Homo sapiens: one gene and its partner. The protein of the gene in region 2 interacts with the protein of the main gene of each other region in a biochemical or structural test. Each region holds a gene or a part of one and is shown on either strand. Other genes may lie near its edges. The genes, in order: FAM20C and ITIH2.

The links.
Region 1: of the proteins of ITIH2 (region 2) and FAM20C, one has a biochemical effect on the other in vitro, tested with the Homo sapiens proteins (one large-scale study listed by IntAct).

What each region holds. Positions count from the first base shown.
Region 1 is NC_000007.14:198,983-202,799, reverse strand, and holds part of FAM20C (extracellular serine/threonine protein kinase FAM20C precursor), read right to left. Parts: exon of another isoform or gene 2,117-3,817; intron 1-2,116. UniProt on the Homo sapiens protein: Golgi serine/threonine protein kinase that phosphorylates secretory pathway proteins within Ser-x-Glu/pSer motifs and plays a key role in biomineralization of bones and teeth.
Region 2 is NC_000010.11:7,730,499-7,734,315, forward strand, and holds part of ITIH2 (inter-alpha-trypsin inhibitor heavy chain H2 precursor), read left to right. Parts: intron 1-1,312; coding exon 1,313-1,498; intron 1,499-1,839; coding exon 1,840-1,979; intron 1,980-3,817. UniProt on the Homo sapiens protein: May act as a carrier of hyaluronan in serum or as a binding protein between hyaluronan and other matrix protein, including those on cell surfaces in tissues to regulate the localization, synthesis and degradation of hyaluronan which are essential to cells undergoing biological processes.

The DNA of each region.
Region 1 (3,817 bases), on a different chromosome or scaffold from region 2:
TCCCACCCAGCAGCCACCCATTCTCTCTATGCACACTGGAAGATATCCATAGGGCCCCCCCATTCCCCAGTACAATCCCACCCAGCAGCCACCCGTCCTCGCTATGCACACGGGAAGATGTCCACGGGCCCCATTCCCCAGTGCAATCTCACCCAGCAGCCACCCATTCTCTCTATGCACACTGGAAGATATCCATAGGGCCCCCCCATTCCCCAGTACAATCCCACCCAGCAGCTACCCGTCCTCTCTATGCACACGGGAAGATGTCCACAAGCCCCATTCCCCAGTGCAATCTCACCCAGCAGCCACCCATTCTCTCTATGCACATGGGAAGATATCCATAGCGCCCCCCCATTCCCCAGTACAATCCCACCCAGCAGTCACCCGTCCTCTCTATGCACACAGGAAGATGTCCACGGGCCCCATTCCCCAGTGCAATCTCACCCAGCAGTCACCCATTCTCTCTATGCACACTGGAAGATATCCATAGGGCCCCCCCATTCCCCAGTACAATCCCACCCAGCAGCCACCTGTCCTCTCTATGCACACGGGAAGATGTCCACAAGCCCCATTCCCCAGTGCAATCTCGCCCAGTGGCCACCCGTCCTCTCTATGCACATGGGAAGATGTCCACTGCCTTTCAAATAGGTTCTCCCCATCTGGAACGCTCTCCCCTTCCTGCCACCTGCCCTGAGCACCTCCCACCACTTAACCCACCAACTTTAGACCAAAGGTGACAGTCTGCTTCTTCCCCGGCCTCGCTGAAGAATCCTATCGCCCGGATATCCGTCAGTATACAGGACTCATTCCTATTGATTCATCATTATTAATCTACGTCACTAGTTAACATGGCTAGTTAATGTGATTAACGTGCACTAGTTACACAAGTTAACATGCACGAACAGAGTGCCCTGTGCCTTCATTATTTCATGTTGCTGTCAGCACTAAGAGTTCGGGGCCACACAGACCCTCGGACGCCACTGGGTTTTGCCCACAGTCTCTCCCCGGGTCACAGCACGAGACAGAGGCGATGTTCGTATGCAGTTGCCTCCTCAGAAGGACTCCAAGAGATGCTGGCATTTCTTATGAAATAAGCGTCTTACATAGAAAGATGGCTGCTGTCACAGAAATACTAATGGACTTTGGTGCCAGGCCCCAATCGGTGTGGCCTTAGGCAAGCCACATAACCCCAGACAGCTCCGGCAACCCACTGGGAAGCTCTAGAAGGAAGAACCCAGAGCAGGTCTGGAGAGACAGGGAGAGACGGCCCTGAAAGAGAGAGGTGTGTGGCCCGGGCCTGGGGGTCCCAACACCCCGCAGGGTGCTCATGGGGATGGAGACTGGGTGCAGCCACCACTCATCCTTGGTTTCTCGTGGGAGCAGGAACCCTTTCTAACAACAACCCCAACCTGACTTTAAATTAACCAGTTCCACCTCCTACAGACCTGTGGACCACAGAAACACATCCAGGTGTGAGATGCTGCCGTCAGCGTGGGCCCCCATGTTGCCGCCTTTGGCCCTGGTCATCTCGTCCGTCAAGAGGGCCAGCGTCTGTCCTTGGGGGTCACGGTCAGGCGGTCCCCCTGCTCTTCACAGCCACTGTCTGGCCTCAAGGGTCAGTTATTCCTGAAGACGAATGGGGACAGCTGTGTGTGCTGGAAGTAGGGCCTCACCCAAAGAGGGCTCAGATGTGGAGAATGTGACACCGGGAGAGCTCAGGTCACCCTGTTCTTCCCACCGCACACATCTCCAAGCCAGAGAGGTCTGCTCGGTGTCCCAGACCCCGGGTGCCCACACCCAGGCTCATATACCCATTCACCCTGGGCACCGAGGGACCTGGTTTTGAGGAAAAGGACATAGTTGGCCAGCAGTGGGCACCCTGGGGCTGGCATCAAGGAGGCTAGAACTGTGGGAACCTACTGCGAGGTAAGGGGCTGGAAGAGCTGGGAGCCTGCACCTGCTCTGGACCTGGATCTGCCAGTCCTCGACTCTCCTGGAGGCCTCAAGTGACAGGCAAGGCCCCATCAGCACTGCCCAAAGTCCCGTCCATCACACACCACCCTCAGGACACTTTCGCCAGAACCGCCTCCACCCCAGACTGTTATTTATTCCACGATTTTCTTCAAGGCCCCTTTTATTTTGAAAGATCTGTTTTTTAAAAGAAAACTGCAGCCTTGCCCCAGTGGGGACCATGTCTGCATCAGAAGGAAAGTCGGCAGGTGCGCATCGGGGCACACTCCTGCAGCTAGGGGGCTGCTGTCTCTGCTCAGCACGGGGAGGCCGGTGCCTGGGTGGCCCCAGGCCTCAGCAGCATGAGCTTTTGCTCCTCACCTTCCACCAGACGGCTGGGAAGGGAGTTGAGTGCGGACTGAGCTATTTGCCGCCTCCTCCAGGCTCCACTTGAAATCGTCCTTTGCAGGTGGTCATTGTCCTTCTTTCAGGATAACCCAAGGTCCCCCAGCCCTGGGGCCATGGGCGTCCAGCTAATTGGGCATCTTCCCTTTTCTCTCTCTAGGCCGGCCGAGCGAGGCCCTGGGACCGTGACCTGCAGGGGCAGTTGCCACCTGGGGTGGGTGGGAGGGGGAACAGTGGCCTTTCTGGAGCTGGCGCTGCCTTCCAAGGAGCCCTGCTCCCAAGGAACAGACACGGTGGCTGTGCCCTCCCAGGTACCTGCAGGCAGCTCCCTCTCGTGGGCTGACCCAGCGGAAGCCCTTTGTTCCTTGAAGCTCACCCGCTGGTTAGTCCTGGATTCTAGCTGGACTCATTCTTCCCCTTTTGGCAGATCAATCAGTGTCAAGAACTTTGGTCCTGCAGAGTCATTTTTCTTTGTTCAGGCATGTTCTCCCAACCACAGTCTTTGTCCCAATCTGGATGGAGCAATTATGAAGTCTGTATTTCAGTCCAGAAGCTGCCCGAATCCTCACATGCCAGTGGGATGTCATTCATTCTTTGCATCCATAATTGTGCATGATAGAAATTTAATTATCGCCAGCCCCAGCCCAAGGCACTGCATGCCCGATTTCAAGCTGAATAGAGGTAGATAATATCCCAAGACTCTTTAAAGGTGGCAATGGCCGGTTACCAGGCAGCCAGGAGCCCAGCTATAAATAAACCTCCGCTGGCCCTAACCAGCTGTGCTGTAGACCACGTGGCGCTCCATGAATTGGATTGGGTGGTTCTGAGCAGGAGAGATTTAATGGAACCGTTCCGAGGGAAGGCTTTGGAGACTCGCAGGCATCGTTCTCCATTACAACAATATTTCTGGGCTCACGTTTAATAGTAAGATGAATGACTTGAGATTAAAGTGAGCACCCAGGGGCCGGACAGCTGAGGGGACAGAACTCAGAGCCTGGAGCACGCAGGTGCTAATCTCGGACAAGCCTCCTGCCCTAAGAGCCTTGGTTTCCCTCGCTGTGGAGCGGTGGTTGGAAGGCAGGGCTGGCCTTTGAAGGCTACCCCTGTTCTTGGTTGCAGGACCTGTCTAGGGGCACCAGGCTCTAAACCTGCCTGATTGGCTTGGCCACGCCAAGGGCCTAGCCAGAGGCTGCTATCTCAAGCAGCTGGGTCTTCACCCAGATCCTCCAACTGGAAGTTCGTACTCAGAAGGGCCCTCGGAACAGCCGTGGCTGAGTCAGGCCAGCCAGGCAGCAGCAAGCGGGGTCAGCAAGCAGGTCAGCCCCCTTCTAGGACAGATCACATCCTCCTGGCCTAGGCCAGCCCTCTTGTGCCGTTCCCTGCAGACCAGGAGACCTGGACCTGGACATGGAGCAGCTCCCATGGCACACTTGGTTCACAGGTGAGGGTCCCCTGCTTCCTC
Region 2 (3,817 bases):
AATTTTTCACAGTGTAAATTTTCTTAAGTATTAAGATACAGGCTGAGTGTGGTGGCTCATGCCTGTAATCCCAGCTCTTTGGAGGCCAAGGTGGGAGGATCACTCGAGCCCAGAGGTTTAAGGCCAGCTTGGGCAACATAGTGAGATCCATCTGTTCAACAGATAATTTTTTTAATTAAAATACATATATTGAAAAGACACAAACTACTTGTTTGTTTTGATTAAATAGATGAGAAAATGATGTAGGGAAAGAACATGTTTTTCCCTGCTCTTTGTCAGTACCAGGCATCGTATTTAAATTTGGGAACAAGTAAGAGATAAGATTCTGATTTGGGGACTATTAACCCAGCTGACTTTTGTAAAAATTTAATTATTACTATTATTTTTTGAGACAGAGTCTTGCTTTGTCACCCAGGCTGGGTGACAAGTACGTTCAATGGCAGTGCAATGGTGTGGTGCAGTGGTTCAGGAGTGCAGTGCTGCGATCTCGGCTCACTGCAACCTCCGCCTCCTGGGTTCAGGCGATTCTCGCACCTCAGTCTCCTGAGTAGCCAGGATTACAGGCATGTGCCACCAGGCCCGGCTAATTTTTGTATTTTTAGAAGAGACAGGGTTTACCATGTTGGCGAGGCTGGTCTCAAACTCCTGAACTCAGGTGATCCGCCTGCCTTGGCCTCCCAAAGTGCTGGGATTACAGGTCAAGCCACCATGCCCGACCTCCTGCTGACTTTTATCATAAGTTTGTCCAAGAGTTTTTCACGCTGACCGTAACAGAAAGGGAAAAAAATGCCAGGCTCTTAAACCAAAGGTAATGTTCTCAACAAGTCTTTGTCTTCTCTCTGTTTTTAATCTGATAATTACGAGCATTTTCCCTTGTCCCAAACGTCCTGTGTGAATAAATTAAGAGGTATCTGCTGATTCTTTGAAGAATCTCAGAGTAAAATGTTTTAGATCAGCTGGGCGTAATCCCTGTAATCCCAGCACTTTGGGAGGCCCAGGCAGGCAGATCACAAGACAGAAGTTCAAGACCAGCCTGGCCAAGATGGTGAAAACCCGTCTCTACTAAAAATACAAAAATTAGCCGGGCTTGGTGGCGGGTGCCCGTAATCCCAGCTACTTGTGGGGCTGAGGTGGGATAATTGCTTGAACCCAGGAGCCGGAGATTGCAGTGAGACGAGATCCCACCACTGCACTCCAGCCTGGGCAACAGAGTGAGACATCGTCTCAAAATAAATAAATAAATAAAATAAAATGCTTTAGATCTACAAAGCAGTAGGAACATAATTTCTCTCTCTCTCTCTGTGAATTGTAGAAATTCTACAACCAGGTCTCCACTCCATTGCTCCGGAATGTTCAGTTCAACTATCCCCATACATCAGTCACGGACGTCACTCAAAACAATTTCCATAACTACTTTGGAGGCTCAGAGATTGTGGTGGCAGGAAAATTTGACCCTGCTAAATTGGATCAAATAGAGAGCGTTATCACGGCGACTTCGGTACTTCCACTTATCCATTTATTCTATCTACTAACTGACCCCCTAGATACAGTCCCTCTTGAATGTCAGCTCTGCCTGCCTGGAATCATGGGTGTAGAACAGAAGCAATCAGTGATGGAGAAGGCATGAGAATATCTCTGCCATCTTCCCAGCTATTCCATAAATCCTGACCTTTTCACCCAAGCCCAATCCCAAGCACAGGAATGCATTTCCTTCCTCCGTAGGCTTTGCCTTCCATTTCTTTTTTATTCCCATTCATTCGCAGCAGGTACTAAAAATGTGAATCAATGAACTATAATTCTGTTACCCAGTGTCTCTCAACTGAACCTTCCATCATCTAGGCTAACACGCAGTTAGTCTTGGAGACCCTGGCCCAGATGGACGACTTGCAGGATTTTCTATCGAAAGACAAGCATGCAGATCCCGATTTCACCAGGAAACTGTGGGCCTATCTAACCATCAACCAACTGCTAGCTGAACGGTAAGAAGAGAAGAGTACCCACACCACGAGATCTGCAAAACTGAAATGTCCACCGTGAATATATGAAGTCATACACAAAAAGAGTTTGGAAGCAAGAAAGACAGCACATTAGCACAGGCTTGGATTATTACCTTCCACTAGTTCTGAACACTTCAGAGAAAGCTGGGTTCACTCTTTTTCTTCTTTATTGAGGTATAACATACAGTAAAGTATGCAAAATGCATTAATTTTTTAATTTTTATTTTATTTATTTATTTTTATTTTTTTTGAGGCAGAGTCTCGCTCTGTCTCCCAGGCTGGAGTGCAGTGACGCCATCTCAGCTCACTGCAAGCTCCGCCTCCCGGGTTCACACCATTCTCCTGCCTCAGCCTCCTGAGTAGCTGGGATTACTGGTGCCCACCACCACGCCCAGCTAATTTTTTTGTATTTTAGTAGAGACGGGGTTTCACCATGTTAGCCAGGATGGTCTCGGTCTCCTGACCTCGTGATCCACCCGAGTGGGCCTCCCAAAGTACTGGGATTACAGGCATGAGCCACCGCACCCGGCCAAAATGCATTAATTTTAAGTGCACCATTCAATGGATTTTTATATCTATCATCCGTGTAATCACCACCCAGATCCAGATGTAGGTTCCCTTGTTCTCCCTCAACACCCACCCCCCTCCTCCACTGTAACCACTCTTTCAATGTCTGTGATCATCAGTTTTGCCTGATCCTAAATTTCACATAATCATGCAATCTGTATTCCTCTGTTCCTGGCTTCTTTCACTCAATATGATGTTGGTGAGATTCATCCATGTTGCTTCATGTATCAGGCATGTATTTGCATTTACTGTCTCGATCTCCTGACCTCATGACCCGCCTGCCTCGGCTTCCTAATGTGCTGGGATTACAGGCATGAGCCACTGCACCCAGCCCTGCATTTACTCTTGAAAATGGCTTCTTGTCCAAAGAGAAATTGATGATTATTAACGATTATGGTGTTCCCTAAGGAAGGGCTCCCCTATGCTCATCTATGTCCCCTCTGGTTGCTTCATGTATCAGTAATTTATTTGCATTTACTCTTGAAAACGGCTTCTTGTCCAAAGAGAATTTAATGATTATGTGATTATGATGTTCCCTAAGGAAGGGCTCCCCCATGCTCATCCATGGCCCCTCTGACTTCTCAGCTGAGCTGCATCTCAACTCTCCAACATGAAAACTATATCCCCAGAGCAATGGATGGTTGACCACCTGCATCAAAATTACACAGAGGTGTTTGATAAAAGTTCCCATTCCCAAGCCTCATTCTGTCTATAAGACAGGATTCTCAGGAAGGTGGAACAGGGTCTAAATGAGGCTGGGAAAATGAAATGCAGTTGTATGACTGAACTCATAGAGAAAATCCCTGATGTCAATAAGGTTAGAAGAAATACGCAAGGCTGTAAACTATGACTGTGAAGTAAACGAGAAATAGCTCCCTCTCTGACAGAAGCACACTAGATGTATTTACAGGTATATAGCAAATTGTTGCAGAAGTTAAATATTGATTTTAAAACAATTCCTATAAAAAGATCAGCAGTTGCTAAAGGTTGGGGAGTGGGAGATACGTGAGTAGGTGGAGCACAGAGCATTTTTATGGCAGTGAAAATACCCTATATGATACTCCAATGGTGGACACCTGTCATTATGCATTTAACCAAACCCATAGAATGTACAACACCAAGGGTCAGCCACGTTAACTGTGGACTCTGCGTGATAATGATGTGTCAGCTTCTTCCATTGTAACAAATGCACCACTCTGATGTGGGATGGATGTTGATAGTGGGGAAGGCCGTGTATATGGGGGACCGTGTGT